4 linked regions of the Homo sapiens genome follow. The gene in region 1 interacts genetically with each later gene. Each region holds a gene or a part of one and is shown in the gene's direction. Other genes may lie near its edges. The genes, in order: TYMS, STK11, CHEK1 and PBRM1.

What was found.
Region 2: changes in TYMS (region 1) and STK11 together harm fitness more than expected from each alone (negative genetic interaction), as found in Homo sapiens cells (one large-scale study listed by BioGRID).
Region 3: changes in TYMS (region 1) and CHEK1 together harm fitness more than expected from each alone (negative genetic interaction), as found in Homo sapiens cells (one large-scale study listed by BioGRID).
Region 4: changes in TYMS (region 1) and PBRM1 together harm fitness more than expected from each alone (negative genetic interaction), as found in Homo sapiens cells (one large-scale study listed by BioGRID).

Annotation. Positions count from the first base shown.
Region 1 is NC_000018.10:663,233-668,428, forward strand, and holds part of TYMS (thymidylate synthase), read left to right. Parts: coding exon of another isoform or gene 1-2,044; exon of another isoform or gene 2,045-3,164; intron 3,165-3,604; exon of another isoform or gene 3,605-4,447; coding exon of another isoform or gene 4,448-4,520; intron 4,521-5,196. Other genes in the region: ENOSF1 (mitochondrial enolase superfamily member 1), read right to left, coding at 1-2,044. UniProt on the Homo sapiens protein: Catalyzes the reductive methylation of 2'-deoxyuridine 5'-monophosphate (dUMP) to thymidine 5'-monophosphate (dTMP), using the cosubstrate, 5,10- methylenetetrahydrofolate (CH2H4folate) as a 1-carbon donor and reductant and contributes to the de novo mitochondrial thymidylate biosynthesis pathway.
Region 2 is NC_000019.10:1,218,782-1,222,888, forward strand, and holds part of STK11 (serine/threonine-protein kinase STK11), read left to right. Parts: intron 1-542; coding exon 543-632; intron 633-1,591; coding exon 1,592-1,724; intron 1,725-1,799; coding exon 1,800-1,936; intron 1,937-2,431; coding exon 2,432-2,559; intron 2,560-3,167; coding exon 3,168-3,225; intron 3,226-4,107. UniProt on the Homo sapiens protein: Tumor suppressor serine/threonine-protein kinase that controls the activity of AMP-activated protein kinase (AMPK) family members, thereby playing a role in various processes such as cell metabolism, cell polarity, apoptosis and DNA damage response.
Region 3 is NC_000011.10:125,651,616-125,656,811, forward strand, and holds part of CHEK1 (serine/threonine-protein kinase Chk1), read left to right. Parts: intron 1-2,130; coding exon 2,131-2,232; intron 2,233-3,609; coding exon 3,610-3,705; 3' UTR 3,706-5,196. UniProt on the Homo sapiens protein: Serine/threonine-protein kinase which is required for checkpoint-mediated cell cycle arrest and activation of DNA repair in response to the presence of DNA damage or unreplicated DNA.
Region 4 is NC_000003.12:52,604,277-52,609,472, reverse strand, and holds part of PBRM1 (protein polybromo-1), read left to right. Parts: coding exon 1-160; intron 161-5,196. UniProt on the Homo sapiens protein: Involved in transcriptional activation and repression of select genes by chromatin remodeling (alteration of DNA-nucleosome topology). Required for the stability of the SWI/SNF chromatin remodeling complex SWI/SNF-B (PBAF).

The DNA of each region.
Region 1 (5,196 bases):
TTGTGGTTTTGATTTGCATTTCTCTGATGGCCAGTGATGGTGAGCATTTTTTCATGTGTTTTTTGGCTGCATAAATGTCTTCTTTTGAGAAGTGTCTGTTCATGTCCTTCGCCCACTTTTTGATGGGGTTGTTTGTTTTTTTCTTATAAATTTGTTTGAGTTCATTGTAGATTCTGGATATTAGCTCTTTGTCAGATGAGTAGGTTGCAAAAATTTTCTCCCATTTTGTGGGTTGCCTGTTCACTCTGATGGTAGTTTCTTTTGCTGTGCAGAAGCTCTTTAGTTTAATTAGATCCCATTTGTCAATTTTGTCTTTTGTTGCCATTGCTTTTGGTGTTTTAGACATGAAGTCCTTGCCCATGCCTATGTCCTGAATGGTAATGCCTAGGTTTTCTTCTAGGGTTTTTATGGTTTTAGGTCTAACGTTTAAGTCTTTAATCCATCTTGAATTGATTTTTGTATAAGGTGTAAGGAAGGGATCCAGTTTCAGCTTTTTACATATGGCTAGCCAGTTTTCCCAGCACCATTTATTAAATAGGGAATCCTTTCCCCATTGCTTGTTTTTCTCAGGTTTGTCAAAGATCAGATAGTTGTAGATATGCGGTGTTATTTCTGAGGGCTCTGTTCTGTTCCATTGATCTATATGTCTGTTTTGGTACCAGTACCATACTGTTTTGGTTACTGTAGCCTTGTAGTATAGTTTGAAGTCAGGTAGTGTGATGTCTCCAGCTTTGTTCTTTTGGCTTAGGATTGACTTGGCGATGTGGGCTCTTTTTTGGTTCCATATGAACTTTAAAGTAGTTTTTTCCAATTCTGTGAAGAAAGTCATTGGTAGCTTGATGGGGATGGCATTGAATCTATAAATTACCTTGGGCAGTATGGCCATTTTCACGATATTGATTCTTCCTACCCATGAGCATGGAATGGTCTTCCATTTCTTTGTATCCTCTTTTATTTCATTGAGCAGTGGTTTGTAGTTCTCCTTGAAGAGGTCCTTCACATCCCTTTTAAGGTGGATTCCTAGGTATTTTATTCTCTTTGAAGCAATTGTGAGTGGAAGTTCACTCATGATTTGGCTCTCTGTTTGTCTGTTATTGGTGTATAAGAATGCTTGTGATTTTTGCAGATTGATTTTATATCCTGAGACTTTGCTGAAGTTGCTTATCAGCTTAAGGAGATTTTGGGCTGAGACAATGGGGTTTTCTAGATATACAATCATGTCGTCTGCAAACAGGGACAATTTGACTTCCTCTTTTCCTAATTGAATACCCTTTATTTCCTTCTCCTGCCTAATTGCCCTGGCCAGAACTTCCAACACTATGTTGAATAGGAGTGGTGAGAGAGGGCATCCCTGTCTTGTGCCAGTTTTCAAAGGGAATGCTTCCAGTTTTTGCCCATTCAGTATGATATTGGCTGTGGGTTTGTCATAGATAGCTCTTATTATTTTGAAATATGTCCCATCAATACCTAATTTATTGAGAGTTTTTAGCATGATGTGTTGTTGAATTTTGTCAAAGGCCTTTTCTGCATCTATTGAGATAATCATGTGGTTTTTGTCTTTGGATCTGTTTATATGCTGGATTACATTTATTGATTTGTGTATATTGAACCAGCCTTGCATCCCAGGGATGAAGCCCACATGATCATGGTGGATAAGCTTTTTGATGTGCTGCTGGATTCGGTTTGCCAGTATTTTATTGAGGAATTTTGCATCAATGTTCATCAAGGATATTGGTCTAAAATTCTCTTTTTTGGTTGTGTCTCTGCCCAGCTTTGGTATCAGGATGATGCTGGCTTCATAAAATGAGTTAGGGAGGATTCCCTCTTTTTCTATTGATTGGAATAGTTTCAGAAGGAATGGTACCAGTTCCTCTTTGTACCTCTGGTAGAATTCGGCTGTGAATCCATCTGGTCCTGGACTCTTTTTGGTTGGTAAGCTATTGATTATTGCCACAATTTCAGCTCCTGTTATTGGTCTATTCAGAGATTCAACTTCTTCCTGGTTTAGTCTTGGGAGAGTGTATGTGTCAAGGAATTTATCCATTTCTTCTAGATTTTCTAGTTTATTTGCGTAGAGGTGTTTGTAGTAATCTCTGATGGTAGTTTGTATTTCTGTGGGATTGGTGGTGATATCCCCTTTATCATTTTTTATTGCGTCTATTTGATTCTTCTCTTTTTCTTTATTAGTCTTGCTAGCGGTCTATAAATTTTGTTGATCCTTTCAAAAAACCAGCTCCTGGATTCATTAATTTTTTGAAGGGTTTTTTGTGTCTCTATTTCCTTCAGTTCTGCTCTGATTTTAGTTATTTCTTGCCTTCTGCTAGCTTTTGAATGTGTTTGCTCTTGCTTTTCTAGTTCTTTTAATTGTGATGTTAGGGTGTCAATTTTGGATCTTTCCTGCTTTCTCTTGTGGGCATTTAGTGCTATAAATTTCCCTCTACACACTGCTTTGAATGTGTCCCAGAGATTCTGGTATGTTGTGTCTCTGTTCTCGTTGGTTTCAAAGAACATCTTTATTTCTGCCTTCATTTCGTTATGTACCCAGTAGTCATTCCGGAGCAGGTTGTTCAGTTTCCATGTAGTTGAGCAGTTTTGAGTGAGTTTCTTAGTTCTGAGTTCTAGTTTGATTGCACTGTGGTCTGAGAGATAGTTTGTTATAATTTCTGTTCTTTTACATTTGCTGAGGAGAGCTTTACTTCCAACTATGTGGTCAATTTTGGAATAGGTGTGGTGCGGTGCTGAAAAAAATGTATATTCTGTTGATTTGGGGTGGAGAGTTCTGTAGATGTCTATTAGGTCCGCTTAGTGCAGAGCTGAGTTCAATTCCTGGGTATCCTTGTTAACTTTCTGTCTCGTTGATCTGTCTAATGTTGACAGTGGGGTGTTAAAGTCTCCCATTATTAATGTGTGGGAGTCTAAGTCTCTTTGTAGGTCAGATGATTGGCACTTACTGGGCGCTTGGCACTTTCCATACTGTGTCATCGGCAGATAGCTGCATGGTTGGTGTTCGTGCTGGGGAATGGGAAGTTCATCGGTGGGACAAGGGACAAAATGCCCCCATTGCTTTGTTGTGGCTTTAATCTCCCTTTCGAGGCTGAGCCACAGCGTGCTGTAGGTGGCGCTGCTGTGAAGCGCAGTGCCAGGGTCACACTCCACTCCCAGCTCTGCAGAGGTGGAGAAAGAATGAAACATCTCACTCCTGGACTTCCACTTTCCTGTCACTGTTGGTGTCACCTCTTACTGGATGTCACAGAGCCCAGCCCCTCCCACCTGTCCCTAGGAAAAGCAGATGCCACCTTGGAATGTGGGGTTTGTGTGTGCAATTTACTAGCTGGGCAGAGACCAGCAACCTGGAGAGCAGGTGTCTCATCTAAGGGGACAGTCACATTTCACCTCCAGCCACCTGGAGGAATTTGGGCCTGGTGATGTCAGAATTCTTCAATAAAAGCCTAAAATCTATATTTTATGTGCGGTCATGAGATCTGTTAAATGTTAGCAACTTCAGGAAGTTTAAAAATGCTGTGTGGACCTAGAATAGGCAAGTTCTTAAAGGCAGAAAGTGGAATGCTAGTTTCCAGGGACTGGGGAACAGGGAGGAATGGGGAGTTCATGTTTAATGGGCACAGAGGTTTTGTTAGGGATGACGAAAAAGTTCGGGAGATGGTGATGGAGATGGTGATGGTGATGGAGATGGTGATGGTGATGGAGATGGTGATGGTGATGGAGATGGAGATGGTGATGGAGATGGAGATGGTGATGGTGATGGAGATGGTGATGGTGATGGAGATGGAGATGGTGATGGAGATGGTGATGGTGATGGAGATGGAGATGGTGATGGTGATGGAGATGGTGATGGTGATGGAGATGGAGATGGAGATGGTGATGGTGATGGTGATGGAGATGGTGATGGTGATGGTGATGGTGATGGAGATGGTGATGGTGATGGTGATGGTGATGGAGATGGTGATGGTGATGGTGATGGAGATGGTGATGGTGATGGAGATGGAGATGGTGATGGTGATGGTGATGGAGATGGTGATGGTGATGGGATGGTGATGGAGATGGTGATGGTGATGGTGATGGAGATGGTGATGGTGATGGAGATGGTGATGGAGATGGTGATGGTGATGGAGATGGTGATGGTGATGGTGATGGTGATGGAGATGGTGATGGTGATGGTGATGGTGATGGTGATGGAGATGGTGATGGTGATGGTGATGGTGATGATGGAGATGGTGATGGTGATGGTGATGGTGATGGTGATGGAGATGGTGATGGTGATGGTGATGGTGATGGAGATGGTGATGGTGATGGTGATGGAGATGGTGATGGTGATGGAGATGGTGATGGTGATGGTGATGGTGATGGTGATGGTGATGGAGATGGGTGATGGTGATGGTTGCCTAACATCAGGAACGTGCTTAATGCTTCTGAATTGCACACAAAAATGGCAAGTTTAATATTATGTGTACTTTATCACAATGAAAAAAGCTGCTGCGTGGGCCAAGTTACTTGTGCAGGTAAGTGTTCTGCAGGTCGTTGCCTGCACCTCAGTTGTAGGGTGTCCGTAGGATGTGAGGCCAGTCCCCGGGCTTAATGATGCTTTAAATCCTGCCTAGTATTCAATTATTTCTTGTCGCTTAAAAGGCCTAATAAAATTATGGTTTTAGTTTACAGTGGTATGAATGCTTAGCTGTTGGATTTTAGTAGGAAAGTTTGTCCCTTTTTGTTTTTAATTTTGTTTTACAGATTCACAGGAATTTTTTTTTTTTTTTTTTTAATGCACAGAAAGTTTCCCTGGACACACTACCCAGTTTCCCCCAGTGATAATATCTTGGGTAACATCCTGTATACATTCACATTGGTGCATTCCTCAGAGTTGTCAGATTTTGCTAGTTTTACGTGCACTTGTGTATGTGTGTATTTGCAATTTTAGCACGTGTAGACTCTTGTAACCACTACAATCAAGTTACAGAACTACACTACCAAGGTTCATCTTTTTAAAATCTTTGATGTTACCTTTTTCGGAACAGTGACCATGAGAGGACTTTCCTCCCAAAATTTTGAGAACTACTGAACCAGAATATAGTCTGACACTAATAGGTAGAAATTTAACCAAAGGAGATTATGAAGCTCTGCACTTCAGTTAACAAATCACTTCTCAGCTTCCAGTTCCATCTCAGAAGGAAGGAAAGG
Region 2 (4,107 bases), on another chromosome or scaffold:
TCTGCCTGAGACAGGCCACGCGGGCTGACCGTTGTGGGCCATTTTGGTCGTGGCTGGGCGTGTCCTCGTGTCATCTGTGGACACCCCCATGGGTCTTACGGGCACAGCCTCCCTACGGGGACTTTGCTTCCTAAGGCCCTGTGCCCAGAGCAAGAGCCAGAAGTGGTCCTGAGGCTGGGGCTGTGTTCCCTGAGCCACGCGGTCAGGGGCCCTGGGACCGTCCTGCATGGGCCCGAGCCTGCTTGGGGGGGCGTCCAGGAGGCACCATCCCCCGCCCATGGGCAGGGTGGGGGACGTGAGCCCCGCAGGAACGCTGCCCCAAGAGTCAGCCCTGTCCTCCCCTTCCCCGTAGGCTCCTTCCTCCTGGGACGCTGGGGCCCCTGGGCCTTTTCAGAGGGGTGGCTGAGGGCAGGGTGGGCCCTGGTCCCGAGGAGGGGCAAGGTGGGTGCAGAGGGTCCCTCCAGAGCCCCTTTTCTGGCCCCCGTGCTCCCTGGGCCTGTGAGTGGGGCCGCCCCCTGAGCTGTGTGTCCTTAGCGCCCCACGTATATGGTGATGGAGTACTGCGTGTGTGGCATGCAGGAAATGCTGGACAGCGTGCCGGAGAAGCGTTTCCCAGTGTGCCAGGCCCACGGGTGCGTGCGCGGGGCAGGGGCCAGGGTGGGGCGGGGGCCGGGGGCCAGGCAGGGCAGGCTCCTTTCCGTGAGGCCACACTGCTTGTCCTGATATTCATTGACATGAAGGCCCAAGTTTTTTTGTTTTTTTGTTTTTTTGTGTTTTTTTTCGAGATGGAGTCTCACTCTGTCGCCCAGGCTGGAGTGCAATGGTGCGATCTCGGCTCACTGCAAGCTCCGCCTCCGAGGTTCACGCCATTCTTCTGCCTCAGCTTCCCGAGTAGCTGGGATTACAGGCGCCCGCCACCACGCCCGGCTAATTTTTTGTATTTTTAGTAGAGACGGGGTTTCACCGTGTTAGCCAGGATGGTCTCAAACTCCTGACCTCGTGATCCGCCTGCCTCAGCCTCCCAAAGTGCTGGGATTACAGGCATGAGCTACCACGCCCGGCCTTGTAAAGGCCCAAGTTTTTAAAAACAGTTTTGGGGTCCCCCATGTGTGGCATCCACAGGCAGGGCTGCTGCCAACCTCCCGCCTCCATCTTTGCTGGGCCTGCTGCCTGAGGCCAGTGGCCTGCTTCCAGCCCATCGCTGGCAGCCGCCTGCCCTGACCAGATCTCCTGGATGCAGGTCTGTGGCCTCAGAGTCAGGGCCCCTTGCTGCTGCAGGACCACAGGGGCAGGGAGGGGCCTGCTGTTCCAGCAAGACTTTGGGGTGCAGCCGGCCTGTGGCCCACAGGAAAATGAGACCTGTGGACATCCGGGGCCCTGCCAGACGTGGCTCGGCCGGACGAGGGTGGCCACTGCAGGCGCAGGTGTGGCTCCCTGCTGGACCTAGCCTTTCCTCTGTCCTGTGTGCCTGGACTTCTGTGACTTCCCAGCTGGGCCTGTGGTGTTTGGGAGGCTCCCAGGCAGCTGCAAAGGGGACCCCTGTGAGGGGCAGGGAGGCCTCGGCCCCAGGACGGGTGTGTGCTGCCCGCAGGTACTTCTGTCAGCTGATTGACGGCCTGGAGTACCTGCATAGCCAGGGCATTGTGCACAAGGACATCAAGCCGGGGAACCTGCTGCTCACCACCGGTGGCACCCTCAAAATCTCCGACCTGGGCGTGGCCGAGGTAGGCACGTGCTAGGGGGGGCCCTGGGGCGCCCCCTCCCGGGCACTCCCTGAGGGCTGCACGGCACCGCCACAGGCACTGCACCCGTTCGCGGCGGACGACACCTGCCGGACCAGCCAGGGCTCCCCGGCTTTCCAGCCGCCCGAGATTGCCAACGGCCTGGACACCTTCTCCGGCTTCAAGGTGGACATCTGGTCGGCTGGGGTCACCCTGTAAGTGCCCCGCCCCCCCGGGCACTCACCACACGCACACTCCGAGGGGCCTCTGCGTCTTGGGCAGCTGCCGGCCTGTGGGCGCAGGGCGTGGCCACCGGCCCAGACCCTCTCTGGCCACAGCCGCTAGGGGGTGCTTACTTTATGGAAATGTAACTCATACGGCAGATGGTGGTTCACCCGTGTGAAGTGCAGCCTGGCCCGTCAGGGATCTTCACAGAGTGGCACGGCCGACCCTCCTCCCAGAGCCCCACAGGGAAGCTGGGCGGGTGACAGCAGCTCCAGGCCCCTTCCCCGGGTGGGTCCAGAGGACACTCCCCTCCTACCCCGTAGCCTCCACTAGTGGAAGGTGGTGAAGACAGAGGTGTCCTTGAGTCCACAGGGCCTCTGGTCCAGCAGCCACGGGACGCCTCTGTCCCTGGGGTAGAGCTGGGGCTCCTAGGGCGTCAACCACCTTGACTGACCACGCCTTTCTTCCCTCCCCTCGAAATGAAGCTACAACATCACCACGGGTCTGTACCCCTTCGAAGGGGACAACATCTACAAGTTGTTTGAGAACATCGGGAAGGGGAGCTACGCCATCCCGGGCGACTGTGGCCCCCCGCTCTCTGACCTGCTGAAAGGTGGGAGCCTCATCCCTCTGCCCGCAGCCCCAGGGAGGCGGGGCTTTTGTGCAGAAATGTAGGGTTGGGGGTGTCAGGTGGGGGGCTATTGGCCCCGAGACCCCAGCAGGCATTGAGAGGACTGAGTGGAGAGGCCGACCTCCCCGCAGGGCCTGGTTTGCCAGGTCCCTCAGCTCCACCCTGCTTCTGGGCCCTGTTCACCCTCCGAACTCCCACCCCAGAGGGCAGTGCTGCCCTGCGCCTCCCCCAGCCCCACCCTCGGGGGCTCCCTGGCTTGCAGGGTCTGTCAGGGTTGTCCTGCTGCACTTCCTACGCATGGCAGCAGGTGGCACTGGCCGTCCGTCCATCTGCCCAGTGGCCTTGGGAGAACGGAACCGCCCTGGCCGTCCAGCCCAGCCCTGTCTCCCTGCCAGCCGCGCACAGGCTGTCCCCGGCATGTCCCAGGAGTGGAGTGGCCTCTGTCAGGGAGACCGCCTGTGCGCGGGGTCCCCCTTAGGAGCGTCCAGGTATCACCCAGGGCCTGACAACAGAGGCTGGGCAGGCGGGGACGGTTGGTGGGGTCTCAGGCCTGTGCCCAGCTGACAGGCTCCTCGCCGGCTTCTCCTCAGGGATGCTTGAGTACGAACCGGCCAAGAGGTTCTCCATCCGGCAGATCCGGCAGCACAGGTGAGCGGCCCCTGGGGGCAGTGGGGCCGAGGCTGCAGGGAGGCCGGCCATGTGGGCAGCTGGTTGAGCGGGCGCTAGAGCAGGGCGTGGTGGGGGTGCCAGGCTGGGCTGGGGCCAGACCCCGTGCAGCGCCCGCAGTTCTCGGGGCCCGAGTGGGGTCTCTGGGCAGTGTCCTGTTACCGGCCAGACCCAGGCGCCTTGTCCGAACTGGGGTCTGAGTGAGGACATGCGTCCGTCCCTGCCCTAGGCATGGAGATGCGCCAGGAAGGGCACAGCTGGTCCCAAACACTGGCGAGAGCCTCTCTTTTTCCCCTCCTCCTGGGGCTCCCAGCAGCAGGGTGTGGCTGGGATCCAGCCCAGGGCCCCCAGCTCCATGACAGGGAAGACAGAGCAGCGGACGGGGTCAGCAGGCCCCACAGTGCCGCCTCCCTCACTTCGTGGGCTCTGCTCCTCTGCACCAGCCCCTGGAGGCCCTTGAGCCGTCTGCTGGAGCCCCTCCGAGCCCCGAGGCCACCCACTGAGACCGGCTCTGGGAGTGGGAGTGTCCGGACCCCTGAGGCGCTGGTGCTGATTGTGCCTTGGGGGTCTCTGCACAGCTCGGGTCATCTGGGCGCCTGGCGGGGACTGGGGCTGCCCCCCGATAGCCTCCTGGGCTGGGATGTGCTCAGGGCCCCCCAGACCCCCTTCTGGCCTTTGCTGGCTTTGCAGCCAGCATCCATCTGGTGGGTGCTGGCTTCTGAGTGCCACCTGGGACACAGGCCTCAGGGTGGAGGGGACATCTGTCAGGCTTGGAGTCAGGTCAGCCTGCCTGCTCCTAGAGGACATGGCTGAGCTTCTGTGGTCACAGCCACCCCTTGCACGGCCTGGTCCCAGCTCCTGAGT
Region 3 (5,196 bases), on another chromosome or scaffold:
AGAGGGTCAGATCGGCTTAAGATAGTTTGTAAATGAGGTTTATTCTGCTCCCACCTGGACCTATGCCTTAAATATGAACTGTTATTTTCAAGGCTGCTACTGAGTGAGGAGCAGGGGATAAACAGGGTAAGTTAAAATGCCAGAAAGCTCACTGTTCTTACTGCGTTTCACTTGTTTTGAATAAGTTGCTGCAAGCTTTTAGCTAGTTTACAATGTTCTGAAAAAGTTGATTCTGACAGGCTTTGGCAGGTTTTTAAAATTGCTTTTGTGGAGTAATGGACTTCTGGAGTTCTTTTCTCTGCCATTTTCACTGACATCACTCCTTGATTCACTCTCTCTCAGTTCTTGAAGTATTTTCTTTGTCTTTGAAGTTTAAGAGCTTAATTCAGATGTGTTGAGTTGAATATCTTGTATTAATTTTCCCAGAACATAGTGGGTTATTTCAGTGCTGCACAGTCGTGGTATGGTTGTGTGTTTTCATAGTTTCTTGAAGTAAGAATTATTACAAAAACTTTTGTAATTTGGGCTGTGTTTTTTGGGCAAATCTGCTGATCTCGCTCGGGCTTAACTCATCCAGCTGTAGTCATTTGATGTCTTTACTGTGGCTGGTGGTCTAAAACATCCTTACTCCCATATTTGGAGTCTTGGCACTGTCTGTTAGCTGAGTCTTTTCTTTCTGCATCATTCAGCTAGGCTGAGCGTCTTTCCATGCCATAGGAACGTTCTAAAAGACTGAAAGTGGAAGTTGAAGGCCTCTCAAGACCTTTGCCATCTTCTAATTGCCGCTCTAGCTTTTCAGCCACAAGTCAGGCCTTTTTCTTTCTCACATTTTAATAATCTTGTTTTTCCTCCCATTATGTTTTCATCTTTGATTGTTTCTTCTTTCAGTGGTATTTTGGTAAAAGACAGTAAGTTTTGTTGCTATGAGTTCATATACACTCAATCCCTAGGAGCTGCACCCCTGTTGATAGATTGGGTTGGGGACACACATACCCACTGGGAGAAGAGAGACTCTGGAATGAGTGAGATTATCAGCATACTTAATATTACTCCTGTTATGGAGGTAGCCAGCAAATTTTTTTTAATTGATACAATAATTGTAATGTATTCATGGGGTATGTAGTGATGTTTTGATTCATATAATGTATAATGATCAGATCAGGATAATTAGCATATTCATAATTTCAAACATTGTGGGAATGGGAATGTTCAGTGATGGGAATGTTCAGTATCCTTCTAGCAATTTGAAACTCTATTATTGTTAAGTATAGTCATCCTACAGTGGTCTAGAACTTACTCCTATCTAGCTGTAATTTTGTATTCTTTCATGAATCTCTATCTTTCCCTTCCCTCTCCCCTTCCTGGACTCTAGTATCCTCTGTTCTGCCTTCTACTTCTATGAAATTAACAGTTTTTTTGTTTCCACATATGAGTGAGAACATGTGATGTTTAATTTTCTGTTCCTGGCTTATTTCACTTTACATAATGTCCTCCAGTTCCACCCATGTTGCTGCAAATGACAGGATTTCATTCCTTTATATGGCTGAGTAGTATTTCATTGTGTATATATATCATATTATCCTCATCTGTTTGCTTGGCTTTTTGTTTTGTTTTTTTGAGACAGGGTCTCGCTCTGTCGCCCATGCTAGAGTGCAGTGGCGCAATCATAGCTCACTGCAGCTTCAACCTCCTGGGCTCAAGTGACCCTTCTGCCTCAGCCCCCTGAGTAGCTGGGCCTGTAGGCATGCACCACCATGCCCGCTAATTTTTTGGGAATTTTAGTAGAGATGAGGTATCGATATGTTGCCCAGCCTGGTCTGAAGCGATCCTTCTGCTTTGGCCTCCCAAAGTGCTGGATTACAGGCGTGAGCCACAGTGCCTGGCCTACACTCATCTGTTGTTGGATACCTAGGTTGATTCCATATCTTGGCTATTGTGAATAATGCTGTAGGGTTGCAAATTTCTCTTCCATATAATTTCCTTTCCTTTGGATCAGTAGTGGGATTGCTGGAACATATAGGTAGTTTTATTTGTAGTTTTTTGAGAAACTTCTATTCTGTTCTTCATAGTGGGTTTACTAGTTTATTATCTACTCACCCATGTGGCTTAACCTTATTTTTGTTGCCTTAGGTTACTATATCAACAACTGATAGGAGAAACAATAAACTCATTTTCAAAGTGAATTTGTTAGAAATGGATGATAAAATATTGGTTGACTTCCGGCTTTCTAAGGTATTTTTATGTTTTATTGTATTCTTTCTATGGAAATATTTCTATATGAATTTTTTTAATGGCATTATGTTTGTATATATGTGGCATTTGTAAATAGGTTACTTGCTTTTTTCGTTTAATATTATGAGCATGTGTTTTCGTTATCTATTTTTCCCGAACATTGTTTTTTTCAAATGACATTTTCCTTATTATAAAAGTTTTTGCCAGGCGTGGTGGCTCATGCCTGTAATCCCAGCACTTTGGGAGTCCGAGACGGGTGGATCTCGAGGTCAGGAGTTTGAGACCAGCCTGGCCAACATAGTGAAACCCCATCTTTACTAAAAATACAAAAAATTAGCCAGGCGTGGTGGCGGGTGCCTGTAATCCCAGCTACTTGGGAGGCTGAAGCAGGAGAATCATTTGAACCTGGGAGGCGGAGGTTGCAGTGAGCCGAGATGACGCCACTGCACTCCAGTCTGGGTGACAATACAAGAGACTCTGTCTCAAAAAAAAGAAATTTCTGCTTTTGTGAAAAATGTAGATAAGCAAAAAATGAGAAAATAAAAATAATTCTAAATTTTCAGTGATCACATTAATATTTCGAAGCATTTTAATATTTTTCTTAATTTATGTCTTTTAATAAAAATTATGATTTGTTACAAATATTTCATTATAATTTAATGAACCTTTACCAGTTATAATAATTCTGTGATTGCTATTTTATGCATAGATTTTTTTGTTCATATTTCTGATGATTTCTTTAGAAATCATTGATTCTAAGATGATAGTATTACAGCCCTTGATATATAAAACCAAAATAACATTTTTCTCTATTTTCTGAGAGATTGTATGTGGCTCTAAAGAGGGTTGGAGGGGTAGCTGCTGTGTTAGAGCATTTGCCGCAGTACTCTTTGTATTAGAGATTTGCTGCAATACTGTTTTTCAGATGCTTGCTACAGAATTAAATTAAGATCGTAGTATAATGAAATTCTTCTCATAACTAAATCTATTGATTTTGGTCAGTAGTGTTATGACAACAAGACTTCAGTTTAGTTGTATAGTTTATTGTTAGTTTCCAAACCCTCACTGCCTATGGAATGTAATGACTTAGGTCCAGATATACCAACACCTGAAACAGATAGGATGCCATGTTTATCTGCTCTCTGAGCTCAGTGCAGTAGGAACAGTGATGGGCATGAAACCACATCAGAATTATTTGTGTAACAATTTTCTCTTCCAGGATATTTGGTCTTCATAAACAGACCGAAAAGAAAATGGTAGCTAGACATACCTAAAGATGTTTGTCTCTTGTTACCACTACAAAGAGATTGATTTTAGGACAGAATTTTGTTTTTGTTTTTGTTTTGACATAATTTTTTAATACTATTTCTAATATAGGGTGATGGATTGGAGTTCAAGAGACACTTCCTGAAGATTAAAGGGAAGCTGATTGATATTGTGAGCAGCCAGAAGATTTGGCTTCCTGCCACATGATCGGACCATCGGCTCTGGGGAATCCTGGTGAATATAGTGCTGCTATGTTGACATTATTCTTCCTAGAGAAGATTATCCTGTCCTGCAAACTGCAAATAGTAGTTCCTGAAGTGTTCACTTCCCTGTTTATCCAAACATCTTCCAATTTATTTTGTTTGTTCGGCATACAAATAATACCTATATCTTAATTGTAAGCAAAACTTTGGGGAAAGGATGAATAGAATTCATTTGATTATTTCTTCATGTGTGTTTAGTATCTGAATTTGAAACTCATCTGGTGGAAACCAAGTTTCAGGGGACATGAGTTTTCCAGCTTTTATACACACGTATCTCATTTTTATCAAAACATTTTGTTTAATTCAAAAAGTACATATTCCATGTTGATTTAATTCTAAGATGAACCAATAAAGACATAATTCTTGTGACTTTTGGACAGTAGATTTATCAGTCTGTGAAGCGAAGCCAGCTTCAAAACATATCCCCAAGATTTGTACTTATATTTTCAAAAGGGCCTGGCCAGTTATATAAACCTGTTTTTGAATTATAATGATTAATTAAAATTGCAAGTAGGTGTTTTTTCCAGTGTAGTTAGTAAAATACTTGTATTTTACAGTGTTGCATAAACTCTAGTGCTTAACTAACTTTACTCTAAAAATTACTGTTGAACATCTTAAATATTTTTCTATATTTTCTACTTTCATAGCCATATTTTAACCTTTTCAACTTACTGGTGACCAAGCTTTTAGGTGATAAAGAATAAAAGAGGGAAGGGAAGAGTAAGGAAGCTATAAGAAAAATAGATCTGATTCTTTGTTCCTTTACCTGTTAGACTTACAAAAAGTTTGTTTTTCTAATAAAATTTGTATCAACTTTGGGGCATATTAGGTTGAGGCCTTGGCTCCTGCCTGTAGTCCCAGCTACTTAGGAGGCTGAGAGAGGAGGATCGCGTGAACCTGGAAGTTTGAGGCTGTAGTGAGCTATGATTGCACCAGTGCACTCCAGCTTGGATGACAGAGTAAGACCCTACCTCTAATAAAAATTTTTAAAATTGTAAAACATTATAAAATTAATCAGTTATTTTAATCTGAAGCCAAGAACATGTAGAATGTTATGATTAGAGTTTATCACATATTAATGTATACTGGCAAATTGTGTTACTGGAGTATACCCATAGGAGGAATAAATTCAAACCTGTTTTATTTATTTGAACCTATTTACGGTATGCTTAAGAATTGAATCAGTATAAATTCTCAAATATGGGAGAAATTTTGTTCTTGAGAATTATCTGAGTCATTAATATTTTTCAAAAACAGCTCTCACTGACTTGAACCTCTTCTGTAAGCTCTAACCTTTTACCTGCTTTACATTTCCACTTGAATGTCTAGTAGGCATCTCTTGACCAAAAACAGCTTTTGATTCCTGTTCTCCAACCTGTTCCTCTCCTAGTTTTCTCCATCTCAGAAATGTTACTTCCTCTGCAAAGTCTTTCCC
Region 4 (5,196 bases), on another chromosome or scaffold:
CTTTAGCAGAAATTCCTGCTGTGGATCCCAACTTTCCTAACAAACCACCCCTTACATTTGACATAATTAGGAAGAATGTTGAAAATAATCGCTACCGTCGGCTTGATTTATTTCAAGAGCATATGTTTGAAGTATTGGAACGAGCAAGAAGGATGAATCGGTATGTTTTCAAAGCCATTTTTATTTTGAGGATATGTGCTATTTAATACAAAACAGATGAAAGAATATTGCTTTGATGTACTATTTCCACTTACATACATGATTTGTAGTTGGTAGCATGCTATTCTGAATTCTAATCAGCCAGAACTTCTTAAGAGTGAGTATATTCTGTGGGGGAGAGAAGGCACACCACTAAGTCATCTAGTTTAAGGCCAGTGAGGAGGAAGACAAAATTGAAAATCTCTTGAAAAGCATAAACTTAAAATACAGCCTTTCATAGAATGTGTTTTTTAAAAAGATAAATGTTTCTAATTGGAAATAGTAACAGCGTTTTTCTTTTAAGGTTTGGCTTCAGTGCACGAATGCTTTAAATAAAATAGCTCTAAGGTGTTGTCCTGAGGTTAGACTGATAGAAATTTGATCACCATTTTAAGTACCTCAGAGGGTTTCTTTTTTTTTTTTAATCTCAGGTTTCTCACCTTAAGAGCTTGCTGAAGACATTAAATGTTCTAAAAGAAGCAATCAAATTTAGATTTACTTTAAACTTAAATTTCCTTCTAATTTTTATCTGTGATATATCGTTGCTACATGTCAATAGCAGACTTGACTATTAAATTCAGCAATTACAGTGTATTTTATATGTGCACTTAGAGACAGTTGGAAAAATATAAAAAAAAAAAAGATACAAACCTTACCTTCCTGGAGCTTACAGCCTATCATGTTTAGAACTAGACCTTCAGGCAGTGTAATGCCAGCTGGGGAATCTATGAAATCAGAATTTGCTCTGAACCTTTAAAGAAAAGCAAGTAGTAATGTTTGCTTTCAGTGTCTTTGCAAATAAAAGAAAAAAAACATAGTAACATTTGCTGCTTGTGTTAAGCACCAGCTCTTCGTAAAGCACCATGCTAAGCACTTTATGAAGGCAATCTCTAACCCTTATGATAGCCATTCTAGATAAGTGATAATCTTTTCAGTTTGCATGTGAAAGAATTAGAGGCATAGGCAGAGAAAAGTTACCCATAGTCTTACAACTAGTAAATGATGTGACTTGTCTTGCTCTCCACTGCAGAGGGCTACTCCTGAGCCAGTTACCAGGACAAGTCATGGAGCACGGCCATAGATGATAAGCCTTGAGCTCTGTGCTCTAAAAGCTTGAAGTCTGATGGATGGGCCAGGACTTACGCTTAAGGGAAAAATAATTCCACACATGAGACAACATGCCACAACCTTATATTTAGTAAAGATGGTGATGTAAGGAACTCTGTGGGCCACAGTTCTCCTTAAAAGGCATGGGATGATAGGTAGGGTTCAAATGAATAGGCCAGAGGATATTTCAAATAAGATGAATGTTATGAGCAAAGAAATGGAGTTAGGAAATGAATATGATATGTTTAAGAGACAGGGATAGAGTTGGGGCCAGTTTGGTGAGGCCCATGTGTGACACTTTTAAGAAATGGTCCTTAATAATATGGTTCTTCAGCAATTGAGTAGAAATAAAGAGAAGGATGGAGGGACATCTTGCAGTCAAAAACTCTTGGAGTTACTCATTTATTCAACACATATTTATTGAGAGGCTACTTAATGAGCATATTCTAGATGCATGTAATACACCAGTGGGCAAAACAAACTCTGCTTTCATGTAGCTTAGACTTCTTTCTGTTCTTGTTCTTGGCTTAAGTAGTCCTTAAGTCTAATACCCCTCCCTTCCTCTCCTCCCTGCTTAGCCCCATTACATCTTGGTGTTAGTTCTGTGAGTCTTTCAATGAGTATTTGTCTTCTAGATTATTAGGAACTTCGTTTATGTCTTATAGATGAAATGTTTATTTTAAGAATTAAGATTTGTATCTCTAGGAAATTAGCTCTTTTCATTCTCCCATTGTTGACATGGTTGTTTTTTGCTTTTGAGGCCTGGAAGATAGAGTCCAAGGTGTATTTTTATGAGATAGTGATGCACACAGTTTTACCCTCATGCCCAGAGCTTTGTTGAAAAACAAAAGGGATCCCTGGTAATTTAGTAGTTAGGAAAAATTTTTTAAAGAAAAACATACGGGGAGCCATTCTTAACTTTGTGAACAAAGATAGTATTGTGATTGCTTATAGTACTTATTAAGAATAAGTACTTAATAAGAATTGATGGAGATGCATCAATTTAGTGAATGATAAACTATGCCTTTATCTACTATATTATCAGTAACAAAGCTAGGCATCCCAGAAATATTAGTTCATAAATTCAATGAAGTCTACATACCGTAGATTTCCATGTTGATCTCTAAGAGTCTTCATGCTTCATCACCATTTACCCCTACCCCTACCCACCACTGCTACCCAACATCACCTAGGACTTCACAGGCTAAAATAGAAGGAATCTGAACAGTGAGACGTAACAAGAGAAAAATTCACTCAGGTGACAATAGTTTGTCCATCAACAGTATTTAGTAACAGCACAGTGCTGACTCATGCCAGTTGGCTGCTGGCTTTCCTAAACTGCTGGCAGTATTCCCAGACTAAACACTCTGATCCCCTTGCAGGTAAAAGAGACCTGTGGGAAGATGAACAAGGGAAGCATTAAGAGCCTCCTGTATTCTTAATTATTTCCTTTTGCTGAATGTCTGCCTTATATAAAAAGATTACCAATTGAGGGGAATTTAGAGTTCTTTTTCCAGCTTGCGTTTATGTTCCTGCACATTCAATGAATACCTGACCTCGTAGACTAATAAATTCTTTATAATGCTTTGAATAAACAAAAGCATATACTAGGTGTTTAGTGACTCTTGTACAGAATGTTCATTTCTAAACCATGCGATATGATGGAATTATGATCTGCCCTTTTAGTATACCATGAAAGGTATTTACAAAAATTTTACAAAAATTTTTTACTTTTAATTTACAGAAATTTTCACTTTTTATACTTAAAATTGTACACTATTATAAAATGAACTTTAATTTCAAGTGAACAGAATTCAAATATCTTCATTCAGAAAACAAACATAAAATTATGTTTTAGGGGCCAGGTACAGTGGCTCACACCTGTAATCCCAGCACTTTTGGAGCCCAAGGTGGGAGGATGGCTTGCACTCAGGAGCTTGAGACCAGTCTGGACAATATAGCAAGACCTTCCTTAGCTCTACTTAAAATAAAATTTAAAAAATCAGCCAAGCTTGGTGACATATGCCTATAGTCCCAGCTACTCGAGAGGTTGAGGTGGGAGGATTGCTTGAGCCAGGAGATTGAGACTGTAGTGAGCCATGATCGTGCCACTGTACTCCAGCCTGGGCAGCAGAGTGAGACTGTGTCTCAAGAAGAAAAAAAAAGTGTTTCAGGGGTGTCTTCCCTTGGTAAGTTTTATTTTTATTGCTTTCCTACAAGTATTAGCATTTCTATGACCCCAAAAGATATTTAAAACCTTTCCAAGGCCGGACACAGTGGCTCACACCTGTAATCCCAGCACTTTGGGAGGCCACGGCGGGCGGATCACCTGAGGTCAGGAGTTCGAGACCAGCCTGGCCAACATGGTGAAGCCTCGTTTCTACTAAAAGTACAAAAATTAGCCAGGCATGGTGGTAGGTGCCTATAATCCCAGCTACTTGAGAGGCTGAGGCAGGAGAATCGCTTGAACCTGGGAGGCAGAGGTTGCAATGAGCTGAGACCGCACCACTGTACTCCAGCCTGGGCAACAAGAACGAAACTCCATCTCAAAAAAAAAAAAAAAAGAGACTTTCCGGAAACACCCATTTAGATTATTGATCGTGTCTTTTAATTGTTTGTCAGTTCACCTTTGCTGATGGGAGCAGCATTCTGGGGACCTCTCTGAAGTTTGATGCTCTAGTGGCATGTATCAGTAGGTGGCCTACTTGGCCACACTCCTCTGACCAGAATGTCTCTGTAACTGCTAAGACCTTTGTGGTTAGTTTTGTGAATAAGTTTTTAGACTCTGGTATTCTTAGTTAATAGAATTTGATTTATGCCAGCCAGGTGTGGTGGCTCACATCTGTAATTTAAGCACTTTGGAAGGCTGAAGAGGGAGGATCACTCGAGGCCAGGAGTTCGAGACCAGCCTGGGCAACACAGGGAGCACCCTGTTGCTACAAAAAATTTTAAAATTAGCCAGCCTGAGCCCAAGAAGTTGAGGCTATGGTGAGCTGTGATCACGCCACTGCACTCCAGTCTGGGTGACAGGGCAAGACCCAGCCTCAAAATAAAATGAAATAAAAACAATTGTATGTAAACCTTCCTCAGACCACAGTGGTACTAGAAACAGTAATAAAATTTCCTCCAGTCAAAATTCTAAAGTCTGAAGTTTATTTTGCCCACTCCCCACATTTTATTTATTTATTTATTTATTTATTTATTTATTTTGGGACAGAGTCTCACTCACTCTGTTGCCCAGACTAGAGTGCAGCGGCGCGATCTTGGCTCACTGCAACCTCCACCTCCCGGGTTCAAGTGATTGTCCTGCCTCAGCCTCCTGAGTAGCTGAGATTACATGTGTGCACCATCAGTTTTTGTATTTTCAGCAGAGACTGGGTTTCACCATTTTGGCCCACCTTGGCCTCCCAAAGTGCTGGGATTGTAGGTGTGAGCCACCACAACTGGCCTGTTTATTGATTTTTTTTTTTTTAACAGACAGGGTCTTGCTCTGTTGCCCAGAGTGGGAATGCAGCGGTGCCATCATAACTTACTGCACCCTTGAACTCCTGGGCTCAAGTGACCCTCCCGCCTCAGCTTCCCGGATAGCTAGGACTGCAAGTGTGTACCCCAATGCCAGGCTACTTTTTTGTTGAGACAGCGTCTTGCTGTGTTGCTTAGGCTGGTCTCAAACTCCTGGCCTTAAGCAGTCCTCCCGCCTCGGCCTCCCAAAGCATTGGGATTATAGGCATGAGCCACCATGCCTGGCCGCTTTATTTCATAAATGAGGAAGGAGACTCAGAAAAGTTCTGGGTATGACATACATAATCTTTTTTCCATCTTTCACTATGTTGCCTTTGCTGGTTCCCCAGAATTACACAGTTATTTCTGGGAAACTAAAATGAACATTAA